Homo sapiens: one gene and its partner. The protein of the gene in region 1 interacts with the protein of each later gene in a pairwise test. Each region holds a gene or a part of one and is shown on either strand. Other genes may lie near its edges.

What was found. The genes of interacting proteins can lie anywhere in the genome.
Region 2: the proteins of CNTNAP2 (region 1) and ZMIZ1 interact in a two-hybrid assay, tested with the Homo sapiens proteins (one study listed by BioGRID and IntAct).

What each region holds. Positions count from the first base shown.
Region 1 is NC_000007.14:148,415,799-148,421,526, forward strand, and holds the end of CNTNAP2 (contactin-associated protein-like 2 precursor), read left to right. Parts: 3' UTR 1-5,200; downstream 5,201-5,728. UniProt on the Homo sapiens protein: Required for gap junction formation. Required, with CNTNAP1, for radial and longitudinal organization of myelinated axons.
Region 2 is NC_000010.11:79,288,955-79,295,984, forward strand, and holds part of ZMIZ1 (zinc finger MIZ domain-containing protein 1), read left to right. Parts: intron 1-820; coding exon 821-935; intron 936-2,004; coding exon 2,005-2,222; intron 2,223-3,203; coding exon 3,204-3,402; intron 3,403-4,408; coding exon of another isoform or gene 4,409-4,426; coding exon 4,427-4,699; intron 4,700-7,030. UniProt on the Homo sapiens protein: Acts as a transcriptional coactivator. Increases ligand-dependent transcriptional activity of AR and promotes AR sumoylation. The stimulation of AR activity is dependent upon sumoylation.

The sequences.
Region 1 (5,728 bases):
AATATTTCTTTATAGCTGAGTTTTCCCTTCTGTATCAAAACAAAATAATACAAAAAATGCTTTTAGAGTTTAAGCAATGGTTGAAATTTGTAGGTACTATCTGTCTTATTTTGTGTGTGTTTAGAGGTGTTCTAAAGACCCGTGGTAACAGGGCAAGTTTTCTACGTTTTTAAGAGCCCTTAGAACGTGGGTATTTTTTTTCTTGAGAAAAGCTAATGCACCTACAGATGGCCCCCAACATTCTCTTCCTTTTGCTTCTAGTCAACCTTAATGGGCTGTTACAGAAACTAGTTCGTGTTTATATACTATTTCCTTTGATGTCCTATAAGTCGGAAAAGAAAGGGGCAAAGAGAACCTATTATTTGCCAGTTTTTAAGCAGAGCTCAATCTATGCCAGCTCTCTGGCATCTGGGGTTCCTGACTGATACCAGCAGTTGAAGGAAGAGAGTGCATGGCACCTGGTGTGTAACGACACAATCAGCACAACTGGAGAGAGGCATTAAAGAACCAGGGAAGGTAGTTTGATTTTTCATTGAATTCTACAAGCTAATATTGTTCCACGTATGTAGTCTTAGACCAATAGCTGTAACTATCAGCTGCAATACCATGGTGACCAGCTGTTACAAAAGATTTTTTCCTGTTTTATCTGAAACATACTGGATTTATATATGTATAAGCGCCTCAATGGGGAATTAGAGCCAGATGTTATGATTTGTTTGCTCTTTTTCTTTTATAGTTTAGTTATAGCAAAAATATGGATAATTTCTAGTGAATGCATAAATTAGGTTGCGTTTCTTATTTTGCTTTAAATCTCTGGTAGTTTTTCCACCCCTGTGACACAATCCTAATAGACAGTGTCCTGTAAATGGACACAACACAATAAAGTCAAGTTATTATTGCTGTTACTCTGGATGATATGGAAAACACTGCCATATTTTAAATCAACTACTCCACGTGTTTTTCCATCCAATCACACTGCTGTGATTCAGGGATCTTTCTTCTAAGACGGACACATTTGAACCTCAGGTTCATCACAAACCTGGTACCTGTTGCTTCCCAGAGGATGGAGAAGTGTAGTTAATCACACCTCTTAGTTTAATCTGAAATCTTGACCCAGTTATTTAACAAATAAATACCTCATTGATTATATTTAAAAGTAATACACTTCCTGTAAACAAATGGGGACAATGCATCCAAAAAATCTTTTTAAACAGATTACACAAAAATTATTTCCAGAAAGGCTACCATTTATCATCATTATATTTCAAGCCTCTTATACTTAATAAGCACTTTCTAAAAAGTCTTGAGATCCCACCATTCTGAGGAATTCAATATGATCACTTTTTCCTTCTTTGCCTGGGAGAGGTTAAGAGGAGGTTTCGAAGGTATAGATGCTATTGTTCTGATGGCCCGGCTGAATAAAATGGAAATTCTAGTTTGTTAGAATTATGCATTCTTTTTCAAGATTCTCAGTGTGCCTAACTTATTGGAGCACATCAGTTTCTTGGGTAATGGAAAACATTACCTAGAGTTGCCAGTGGCACATTACACCAGTACAGAGCACATTCCAAAGGAGACATTGGACCAGTTAATTCCCATACAAGTCAAGGTAACAGAACAAAAGGGAATCCTGATGCCCTTTTACCATTGCTGGTTGAGCTCAGGCACTGTCATGGACACCCTTAATTTTAAAAGGTTTTAATCATTCTTCTATAAAATACATTTAAAATGGAAAAATACTTAATATCACTAAATATCAGAACAATGTAACATTTACAAATGACATATTGAAAGCAAAGGCTGTTTTATTTAGCCAAGATGATTACCATTAGGAGTTACTTTATGTATTGTTGAAAGCAAATTTTAAACATGATGTTTTAGAAGTGTTTCTGATTTTTAAACCTGGTTTACAGGTATTACTTCTGCACTTACCAAATAATGCCAGATGGAAATTTATTATTTCTTGCAATTCCCATGATAGCTCTGTTCTTTATGCATTGTCTCAACACTTTCCCTTTTTTCCCAAAATGAGTAGAGAATTAAAGCCACCCAAAACAGCTTCTGCTACTAAAATGTTCTCATCCTTTCTCCTCCCTCTCCTTTTCCTGCCACAAAAGGTGAAAAATGAGATCCAATCCTCTCACCAAAATTTCAAACCTAGGACACTGGAATGACTGCAGGGATCAGTGGTTCTCCCATATCACCATCAATTAAGACATATAGGACACTGTCTTCCTTCAAGAGGGTTACAATGTGGCCATCAGACAGGAAACCAAACGGTGGATAAAGTATTAAGTAACTAAGTGCCAAATAAATGCTGGAAATCTTGACCTCTCCTTGGGATTATGGGTGTAACAAAAATCCCTACATCTGTTTATGAAGGCCATATTCAGTACATTTTAAATGGTAAATAATCTGTTTATGTGAAGAAAAAGAATTAAGTCTTTCTTCCAACTCTCTCCTTGGATAGCCTAGCACAGTGCAGCCTCCATAACCATGACATTCCCGCCCAAGCTCTCAGTGCCTAATCCTGCTTTGTCATTCACATCTCACAAAATCTTGACATCTTACATTCCAATACATTATCAAGCAAGCACAAGTATGCTGGTAGTAGCCTCTTTAAATAATATGTATAGACAACAACAACGACAAAAAATAGACTGTTTTAAAGTTTCAGGGAAAGTTGGTGGCTGATTTAAAGTTGTGCAGGAAACATCTTCTGTGTATGAAGCAAATGTCGATGTTTTGAAAAAAGCTAGGAGATGACTTTGAATGAATGCAAGGTTAGTGAGATCCTAAGCTCTCAAAATAGCATATTCCCTAGAGCTCAAGAAAGCTGGTCCAGGAGGTTGAAAAAGCTATTTTGTTGTTAAATTATTTTCTGGCCCTTCTTAATATTTAAAAATGTATTTCCCCTTGTGGCTTTCAACCACCTGCTCAAAAAAAGAGACTTGTTACATGAAAGTTTTCATTAAAGAGCTGAAAACAAGAATTTAGAGAGCCATTCCTAGAAAATGTCCTACTGCCCTGCATTTGACAAACAAGCATCCTTTACTAACAAGAGCAGGAATTCAGAGGCACAAGAAAAAGCATTGGCATGAGCCAAAGAGTCTGTCTTAATGTTACTTTTGAAAATCTGCTGAGCGGCCACCATATGCAGGCTGAGAGCTGGGCACAGGCGAAGCCATTGGAAGCACTTCAGGAACAAGCACACAGCTGTGGGACTTGAACATGCAAGTGTTCAGGTTGTGTCAAGAAGCTTTTCTTTCCTTCTATGATGGAATCTGTTCTTTTCTATCCTACTTTTTTCTCTCTTCCTCTCCTCACCACATTATACCCTGCTCTTACGCAGTAAACGTTTTAATGGCCCGTTTATGTCTCATGCCTCCAAACAACACTGAATTTGAAACCCCCCATTTTTTCTTTTCACCACCCTGTTGAGCAATTTTCCCAAAAAAAGGGCAGCAATTATTAAATTGAATTCAAGTAAGCCAGCCAAAGATAGGTCCTAAATTGCTAGTCCCAGTAGAACCACCTGATCCTAAACCAGTGCGAAACAAACAGTAACAATGTCCCCAGCTGACTTCAGCTAAGAACCAATGGCTCCTACCCCCGCCCCGCTTTTTTTTGTTGTTTTTTGTTTTGTTTTGAGACGGAGTCTTGCTCTGTCCCCCAGGCTGGAGTGCACTGGCGCAATCTCGGGCTCACTGCAACCTCCTCCTCCTCCCACATTGAGGCGATTCTCCTGCCTCAGCCTCCCAAGTAGCTGGGATTACAGGCACCCGCCATCACACCCAGCTAATTTTTTTTTTTTTTTGTATTATTAGTAGAAGCCAGGTTTCACCATGTTGGCCAGGGTGGTCTCGAACTCCTGACCTCAAGTGATCCGTCCACCTCGGCCTTGCAAATTGCTGGGATTACAGGTGTGAGCCACCGTGCCGAGCCAGCCCCATTTTTTAAATGATGTTTTGGTTAAGAGTGGACCATGAGAATTAGCTGACAGCATCCCCTTTCTCTCTCCCTGCCTTGGTGGGACCCTCCCTGTGTGACCTTGGTCAAGTCCTCGAACTTTTGTCCCGTATTTAAGATGGAGCTGTTTTACCTACTTCATAAGACAGTTGCGAGGTGCCATTGATTCTTGACTGCAAAATACCTTGAAACCCTTATATAAAGACTGAAGTCAACGGAGCCTAGTGAAAGACTTACTTTGTGGCTTGTGGTTGAAAGTCACATCAAAAGACAAATGTGGCCACGTTCAGGAATTGGAGACTTACTGGCATGGCTCTACAGCTGCTCAGTTATTAATCATGCAGACTAACCTGTCAACACTGGGAGATGCAACATAGCAAAAGGACAGAGAAATTAGAATTTTTTGTGCAGAAAGCCCTAAATTCCCACCTGAATGTAACTTACAGCTCCCTTACCTACTCTCACACATGCCCTCAAACATGCTAGATTGGCTTATACATAGGCCAACACAAAATACAAACGTGACGTGTTCATGTAGCCTAGTGGCTATATGCCTATTCTCCATGTACCCTGCATGGTAGTGCTGCAAACTTTAAAGTACATTTCTTTCACAGCAGTATTTTTTTTCATAAGTGGCATATAAATGTCATTCAATGAAATGGGGAAATCACGTTGAGAAGTTGGTCTGTCATCTCCCATTGAGCAAAGACTGGCAGGAGATAATAAAAATAAATATGGGCACACATGTATTAATATACAGCACGCATTTACAAGTTTATTTTCCAGATAAAATTGTGCTATAAGAACAGCTCTACCAAGACAGTCTGCACCATTTCCAAGTCTCAGTTAATTTACAGCAACTGCTGCTTTCGGAGATGGCTGTGAAAATATGGAAGTTCCTCTCAAGTAGGCCAAGAAACAGTTCTAGATTTTACTAAGTTTTATTTTGTCAGGTTTTTTAAATTTTTTCAGTGAGCGTGGTGACTGCAGAGGTTAGTGCTGTGAAAAGCTGGGCTAAATATTCTTTCTGTAAAGTCAAACAGGATTCCATCCCCTGTGAAATAACACAAAATTTCACTCTCTAAAAGCAACAGCATGTAAACTAGAATGAAAGAAGGAAATTATGTACGTATGCCTAATATTCTTTGTGAATGTCTTTCATTTAACTAAAATTATATTAGAAACCAGATTGATAAATAAAAAATTCAAAGTAGTTTTAATTATCCTAAAAGCGATTCTTCGTGTTTTGTACCACTTGTCTCTCTTAAGAGCAATTTTCAACCTTCAGCAAAAGTTAAGTTCCAAGCACTGAAATATAAGCCTACTGAGAATATCGTCTTTCCACAAGTTGTGGAGATATAGTCACTCCTAAAAGGTCTGATTTGGGTACGTCCATGGTTAACCTCCTACCACAAATAGCTCCCCGTTAAAAGAGGAGTTTTTCTTAAAGTGGCTTAGTAGACATTGACTTTGGTTAGTTTACACCCATCTTGATAAAATGTGGTTCGAGTTCAGTTATCTCCAGAATATATTCTGATCCTTATTTGGAATGAGGGAGTAACACTGGATAGTGGGCACATGGATCCAAGCCAGGGAACTAGACAGCAAGGACTCGGCATGCATCGGAGGTGCGAAGCTTCCTAAATGCACTCCGTGTGCTTTTAGAGCTAAGTTATTACTCTCACTTGCTAGTTGTTCTGCAGCGAGCAGCTCTATGCAAACCACCCCTGCAAACCAAGGAAGCTGAGAGGCCAAAGAA
Region 2 (7,030 bases), on another chromosome or scaffold:
TAGAGAGGAGGCAGTGTTTAGGGGCAGGGGCAGCTCCACGAGAGGACAGAGCCAAAGCGGGGTGAGGGAATGGTGGGGTCCGCCAGAGGAGTAAGTCATTCTTAAGTGTGTGTTTGGACTCTGCCTTATAAATGCTGGAAGCCACCAAAGGTCTTTGATTGTGCCAGGCATCTTAGGTGTTTGAGGGAGATTAGCTTGGGGAAAATGTACATGAGAGATCGGGGTGGGGGCAGGAGAGGGTGTGCAGCAGGTAGGCCTGTACCCACATTGCTGGGGGCTGGGAAGGAAGGGTGCCGGAAGAAAGCCTGCATTCCCATGGCCCAGGCAGCCAGGCTGCTGTGAAGGGCTGGGAGGTAGAGGGAAGGGCTGACACCCTCAGACTCGGACCCTTCCAGCCTGTACTGAGAAGGGACCAAGCAGTTCCAAGGGTAAGGTGGTTTGGGGGAGCCCAGGCTCTTCCTAAAGGGCAACGTGGAGTCAGAGCCCGGGTGAAGGAGGAGCTCAGATTGGGCCTCAGGTCACACCACTTCATCAGTTGCATGACCTGTGGACTCGGGGATACAGGGAGACACACAGCCATGGAAGTAGCTCTCTGCAGTGATCGGGGGAAAGGTGGCCACTTCTGAACAGCCTGTCACCATGCAGGGCACACTGTTGTGCACTGGGCACTGAGACAGGCCTGGGGGGTCCAGTACCGACTCGGATGGGGGTTACCTTGGACTGACTGGGAGCTGCGGTCACTTGGTGGGGTGATGGGCATGGCCTGTCTTGAGTCTGTGCCTGCCAGGCCCTGAAGATCTCCCTCTGTCTCCCTCTGCAGTGATGGGTCGTTCCCCTATGACTCTGTCCCTTGGCAGCAGAACACCAACCAGCCTCCCGGCTCCCTTTCCGTGGTCACCACGGTTTGGGGAGTAACCAACACATCCCAGAGCCAGGTAAGAGCCTATACTGCCCTCAGCCACAGCTCTTTCTAGGCGGGAGTGTCCCTTGACCCCTGGAGCCATACCAGCCCTCTTCACCCTCACAGGCCTTGCCCTGCTGGAAAGACCAGCTTCCAGGGCACACCCAGCTGTGGACACGTCTCCACCCCTGGCAGGCTCTGCACCCGCCTCAGGAGGGCAGCCTCTATGGACTGTCCCCATCCTAAGGCCTTTCTGGAGGAATGGCATTCATCTGACAGACAGCAAGGGGTTCTTCCCTAGCCCATTTGCTCTGGTAAACAGGAGAACTTCCTCTGTGTTACTGGCTTCAGGGCTCCAAGGTCTGAGGTCTCTGACCCTGGATGTATGGCCTGAGTTGGATTTCATCAAAATATTGTGCCTTGGACTTCTGACAACTCCCTACTCCCCATTGCCCTAGTCAGACCCACCTCCCTCTCATTCCTTCCTCTCTCTTCCACTCCTCCTCTGCCCAGTCAGGGAGTCTCCCACCTGTCTGACCTCTGCCAGCCTTTTCTGTGGCTACATGGAAGGCTCAGGGCTGCTTGTCACCCTGGAGGGAGCCACTGGGCTGACCGGTTGTCGCCTGCTCCTGCTGCCCTCCAGAGCTAGCAGGGTGGGTTCCTCTTGGCCCTCACAGAGCAGCAGCCAGGGGCCTTGGGGCCCCTGTGTGACAAGACGCTGGCATCCAGGCTCGTTTGTGGGGCAGTAGGCTTCATGGCCAGGGCTCTCCCCACGGGTACCTGGTACAAGAGCAGCCTCTTCTCCCTTCACTGGGCTGCGCAGCCCCTGGGGACCGCTTGAACTGGCTTTGTGGGGCTTGGTCATACCCTCAGCTTGTTCCATCACAAGGCTGACGTTCTCATCCCCCACGCCACCTGCCGCCCAGGCCCGCTCCTTATCACCGGTACACTCAGAATAGTTCATCCACCCTCCATTTTTTTCCTCCTCCCTGTTGTCCTGCCTCCACTTTGTTCTTTCTCCCTTTCCCCTCTTCATTTATCCCTCTTCCTCTCCACACTGCCTCGGGTAGCACCTTAGGTGACAACCACTTCTCTGCCCACAGGTCCTTGGGAACCCTATGGCCAATGCCAACAACCCCATGAATCCAGGCGGCAACCCCATGGCGTCGGGCATGACCACCAGCAACCCAGGCCTCAACTCCCCACAGTTTGCGGGGCAGCAGCAGCAGTTCTCAGCCAAGGCTGGCCCCGCTCAGCCCTACATCCAGCAGAGCATGTATGGCCGGCCCAACTACCCCGGCAGCGGGGGCTTTGGGGCCAGGTGAGCAGGGCTGACCTGTGGCAGAAGCCATGGACGCCACCCCTCTTCCTCCTTCCAGTGGGGAGGGACCCACTTAAATCCCAGCTCCACGCTTTCTGCCCTGAGAAGTTATCCTCTGTTGTTACATGAGTTGAAGGGGCTCAGTCATCCCTGGCTCCCAGGGCTGGCCTGCAGATAAGGCGCTGCAGCAGTTGGCCTGTGTTCTGACAGTCGTCAGACTCGTAGAAATAGAGAGGTGACATTCTTACTCCTCAAAACCTCAAAACAACCCTTCTCTAAATTTTGTCTTTAATGAATAGGAAAATATTGAGAAAATCTGGATTGGGAAAGTCGAAGAGCAGGTATAGATGGGGTCCAGTTGCCCAAAGACAGTGAAGCAGTCTGGGAATATCTGCTCTGCCTTGCTGATTGGTGAAAGCAGAACTATGCAGAGACTGCGAGTCCCTTGGCTGGGAAGAAAAGGGCAGGGACTCCCAGGATATGGAGCTCTGGGGAGTGGTGTGAGGCGAGCAGAGGTGCCCATTCTCCTCTTTCCACCCCGCCCTGCCTAAGACCCCCACCTTGGCCTCAGCCCTCACCAGCCCTGGCTGGGTTTCTGGCCTGGGGTTGGCACAGCTATATGACCTGGTGGTTAAACACAGGGATCAGAAACACCTGCAGCTGCAGCCGCAGCTCCGCCATCAATGCTGCAGGGCCTTGGGCAAGTTGCTCAGGTTCTCTGAGACTCAGTGTCCTTCAGAAGATGGGCTCACCAGGGCCCCGACAGCATGCAGTGAGGGTGCAGGCACCCCCAAGGGCTCCAGGAGCACAGCAGCCTGGTCGTTGCCAAGTGGCACAAATGAATGGCTGCCAATCCCAAGAGGCCCCGTCCCCTCTAGGTTCTGGGTACAGCTCCATCATCTCCCTTCCAGCCCACAGCTTGCCCTCAGTTCCCCTCAGATGCAGGCAGTACCTAACTCTTCCACCCTTCTCCCCCTGCAGTTACCCTGGGGGTCCTAACGCCCCCGCAGGCATGGGCATCCCTCCGCACACCAGGCCGCCTGCTGACTTCACTCAGCCCGCGGCAGCCGCTGCAGCAGCGGCAGTGGCAGCAGCAGCAGCCACAGCTACAGCCACAGCCACGGCCACTGTGGCAGCCCTGCAGGAGACACAGAACAAGGATATAAACCAGTATGGACCGGTAAGGGTTCCCACTAATCCTGGTCCAGCCTTGCCCAGCCAGCCAGGCAGACAGCCCTGGGAAACCAGAGTTGGGATGTCAGTGCTTATGGGGCCATGTGTGCTGGGAGAGCTGACTGCATTAGGGTGCATTTGGGCTTTCATGGAAGCATGTGGAGGTCTGTGTGTTTAGAATGGCGCATGTCTAGAATGGGGCGTGTCAGTGTGCTTGGGTGTGGTGGGGTGTATGGGTGCTGGTGTTTGTTCTGTGTGTTGGTGGCTCATGTACAACTGCATATGGGGAAAAGGTTCTACATGGCTCTCTGGGCCCCCAACTCACCAAGGAGTGGGCTCAATGTCTAAAAATAGTCTTGTGACCGGTCTGTCTCCTGGATTGCCTCTGAGACCAGTGCCCTCCTAGTCACCCTATCTGTGGGTCTGCGCAGGCCCCAGTGCTGCTCCCTGACCTTCTGAAGGATGGGTTAGGGGATGAGGAGAGGGGAGCCCCCATAGGAATGCAGAACAGGAGGTGAGGAGGTGGGAACTGCAGGGCAGAGGGGCAGAAGTGGAAGCTGGGCTGAGGCCAACTTTGGGGATGGAGGGTGTGCCTCCACTGGCCCAGGACCAAGGGCAGGGCCAGGGCTTCCAGGAAAGGGGCTGCAGTCTCACTCGGGCTCCTGCCTCCACCCTCATCTACCTCCACCCTCCCATACCCCTCCCTGTCCCTGCACACTTTCCTGGTTTTCTGCCTGCCTCCCTCCCTGGAAATGCTGCCTGTGCATCGGAGTGACCACCTCACCCCACCCCACCCCATCCCCTAACACCCCTGAGCTGCATCTCTCCTGTGCGGCTGCAGAGGGCAGCAGTGAGCCTGGGTGGATCCTGCTCCCCTGGGGCCTGGTTGGTCACCAGTCACTGCCGCACAGGACAGTGCCCCCTCCCCACTCCTCCACCTCCCCAACCCTTCCCTCCCTGCACTTTCAATGCATGTGGCATTTTATTCTTTTTTTTTTCTTCTCCCGTTGAAGGTCTGTTCCTCTTTCCAGATGGGTCCCACCCAGGCGTATAACAGCCAATTCATGAACCAGCCCGGGCCGCGGGGGCCTGCCTCCATGGGGGGCAGCATGAACCCCGCGAGCATGGCGGCTGGCATGACGCCCTCGGGGATGAGCGGCCCTCCCATGGGCATGAACCAGCCCCGGCCGCCCGGCATCAGCCCCTTTGGCACACACGGGCAGCGGATGCCCCAGCAGACCTACCCGGGCCCCCGGCCCCAGTCCCTTCCTATTCAGAACATAAAGAGGCCATACCCTGGAGAGGTGAGTGCAGCAGTGGGAGCCTGGGAGGTGGGAACTGGGACACCTGGGCTTGAAGACATGGGCCGTGGGTACGGCTTTGGAAGGGGTGTGGCTTGGACTCCAGCACACTTGGACAAAGAGGCAGGGGCTTAGGGGTCAGGTGCTCCTGGGTTTGAGACCTGGTTCTGCTGTTTCCCAACTGAAAGACCTCGAGCCAGTCACCCTGCCTCCTAGGGCTGCTTGAGGGACTTGAGGAGGTGTCCGTGAAGTGCTTGGCCCTGGGCTGGCATGTGCCGCCACTCAGCAAGCAGCAGTTCCTCTTACTGTAGTGACTCTTGTCTTGGCTCAGCCACTAACTGGGTGACCTGGGTTTAGTTCCTCCTGCCCACATGAGAGCTTCCCCAACTCCTCTCCAAGAAAGAGAGCTGAGACAAAATGCTTCCAGTCTATAAGGGCTGACCCGTCCGGGAAGTGACTGGAAGGCAGGCAGCGTGTTTCCAGTCTGTAAGGATTGACCTGTTGGGGAAGTGACTGGAAGGCAGAGAGCGTGTTTCCAATCTATAAGGACTGACCCGTTGGGGAAGTGACTGGAAGGCCGGCAGCTGTTTCCAGTCTATAAGGACTGACCCGTCAGGGAAGTGACTGGAAGGCAGACAGCGTGTTTCTTAGCTCTTGTTTCCATCCACACTTGGTCACTGTATAGGAAGTGGCACTGCCTCTTGGGCTGCACAGCCAGCTCAGCCAAGGTGTTGGGGAAGATTTGGGGAAGTAAAACCCACACCTCCTGCCCTCTGGGAAGTGAGGTTTTAGCAGGAAAGAAAAGTTTTTAGCAGAGACTCACCAGGGAATGAAGCATAGCAGACTGCACAGAACTCAATATGAGTCAGAGAAGGCAGGCTTCCTGGAGGGTGTGTCACAAGTAAATCCTCAGAAAATGATGCTGGCAGCAGCTGGCCCATCTGGGTACCCAGGTAAGGATTTAGTTTACCTGCAGAAGACGTAGGGACGTGGCTCTGCAGATGCCCCTCGTGAAGCCCTGGTTGCTCCCCACGACCAAGCCCCTTTTTGAGCAGGGTGTGCCCAGCTCTCTGCCTGCCTCCCTCCCAGCTTGCATGCCCACTCTCAGAGCAGTTTTCTCCTCCTAGCTCCTCTCAGCTCTGTGGCCTTCACCTTGGGTTCACAGCGGCTTTAGATTCCAAAGACCTTAAGTTCCTTGAAGATCTGCACATTTCCCCTCAGTATCCACCTTAGGATGGGCGGGGAGGCTTGGCAACAAGTGGAGGTATTCTGAGTTCAGGAGGGGAGAGAGAGGGGGGGGGGTCAGGGGCTTCCTCATGCATCCAAGAAGCTGGATCAAGCCCCAACCCTCCACCTGGTGGACACTAGTTCAGGGAGGGGCCAGAGAAGGACCATTGGCTCCTGGGTCCTGAGTTTGGGGGAGCCTCAAGCTATTGGCACCTCTCCTGGCACTCAGGCCCCATGCAGTTTCTAGGCCTTTTCTCAGCCACCCTGTGCTCAAAATCCCAGTGTCCCACTGGCTGTGCTGGGGGTGCATCTGTTAGCCCACGCCAAAGGAGGCAATCTCGGATGAGGCTTCAGCAGAATTCCTGGTCATTGGTGTCACCCCTGCACCTGCACCTGTGCCATGCTTATGGCTCTTGCCTGCCTAAAGAGAGCACACCAAAGGCTCTCCATATTTTTACTAAATTAATCATCCTTTTCATAGAGTGCTGCTGCTACCCAGCTACAGCACTGGGTGGTCACAGCCTATGCGGCCTGATCCTGTCTGGAAGACTGGCCTTCCTTCCCCTTGCCATGGCTTGTTCATACAATATTTGAATTGTTGGAGCCTTAGGACAGGGGTTGGGTCATCTGGTCCCACAGAGGACTCTCTTCTCTAGCTTGGTGGGCAGGTAGGCACCAGCTACGTCTTCTATACCTCCTGTGGTGGGTGCCTCACTGTCACCCAGAGCAGCCACCATGTTGCAACAACGTGAGTTGTAGATTCTTCCACACTGACACTTTCTGACATTTATCCCTAAGTCCATCATTCGTTTGTTGAGCAAGTATTAAGGGTATTTTCCCAGGCACTGGGGCACAGCCACCAACAGGACCTCTGGGCAAGAGAGACACTCAGATGGGGAAGAAGAAACCACTGACTCACAGGATGTCATGTGGCCGTGAGGGTCACCTGATTTTCCAGACAGGGAAGGTGGCTGGAGGGTGGTGCTCTCTCCTCTTCTCTAAATTGTCTGTCCCGGGAGAAGTTGTCTTGTTCCTTCACCAACCTGGCTCTCCCACCTCCTGCACAGGTGGCAGGTTGTCGATGGCCCAGAACTGAACACTAGGTGT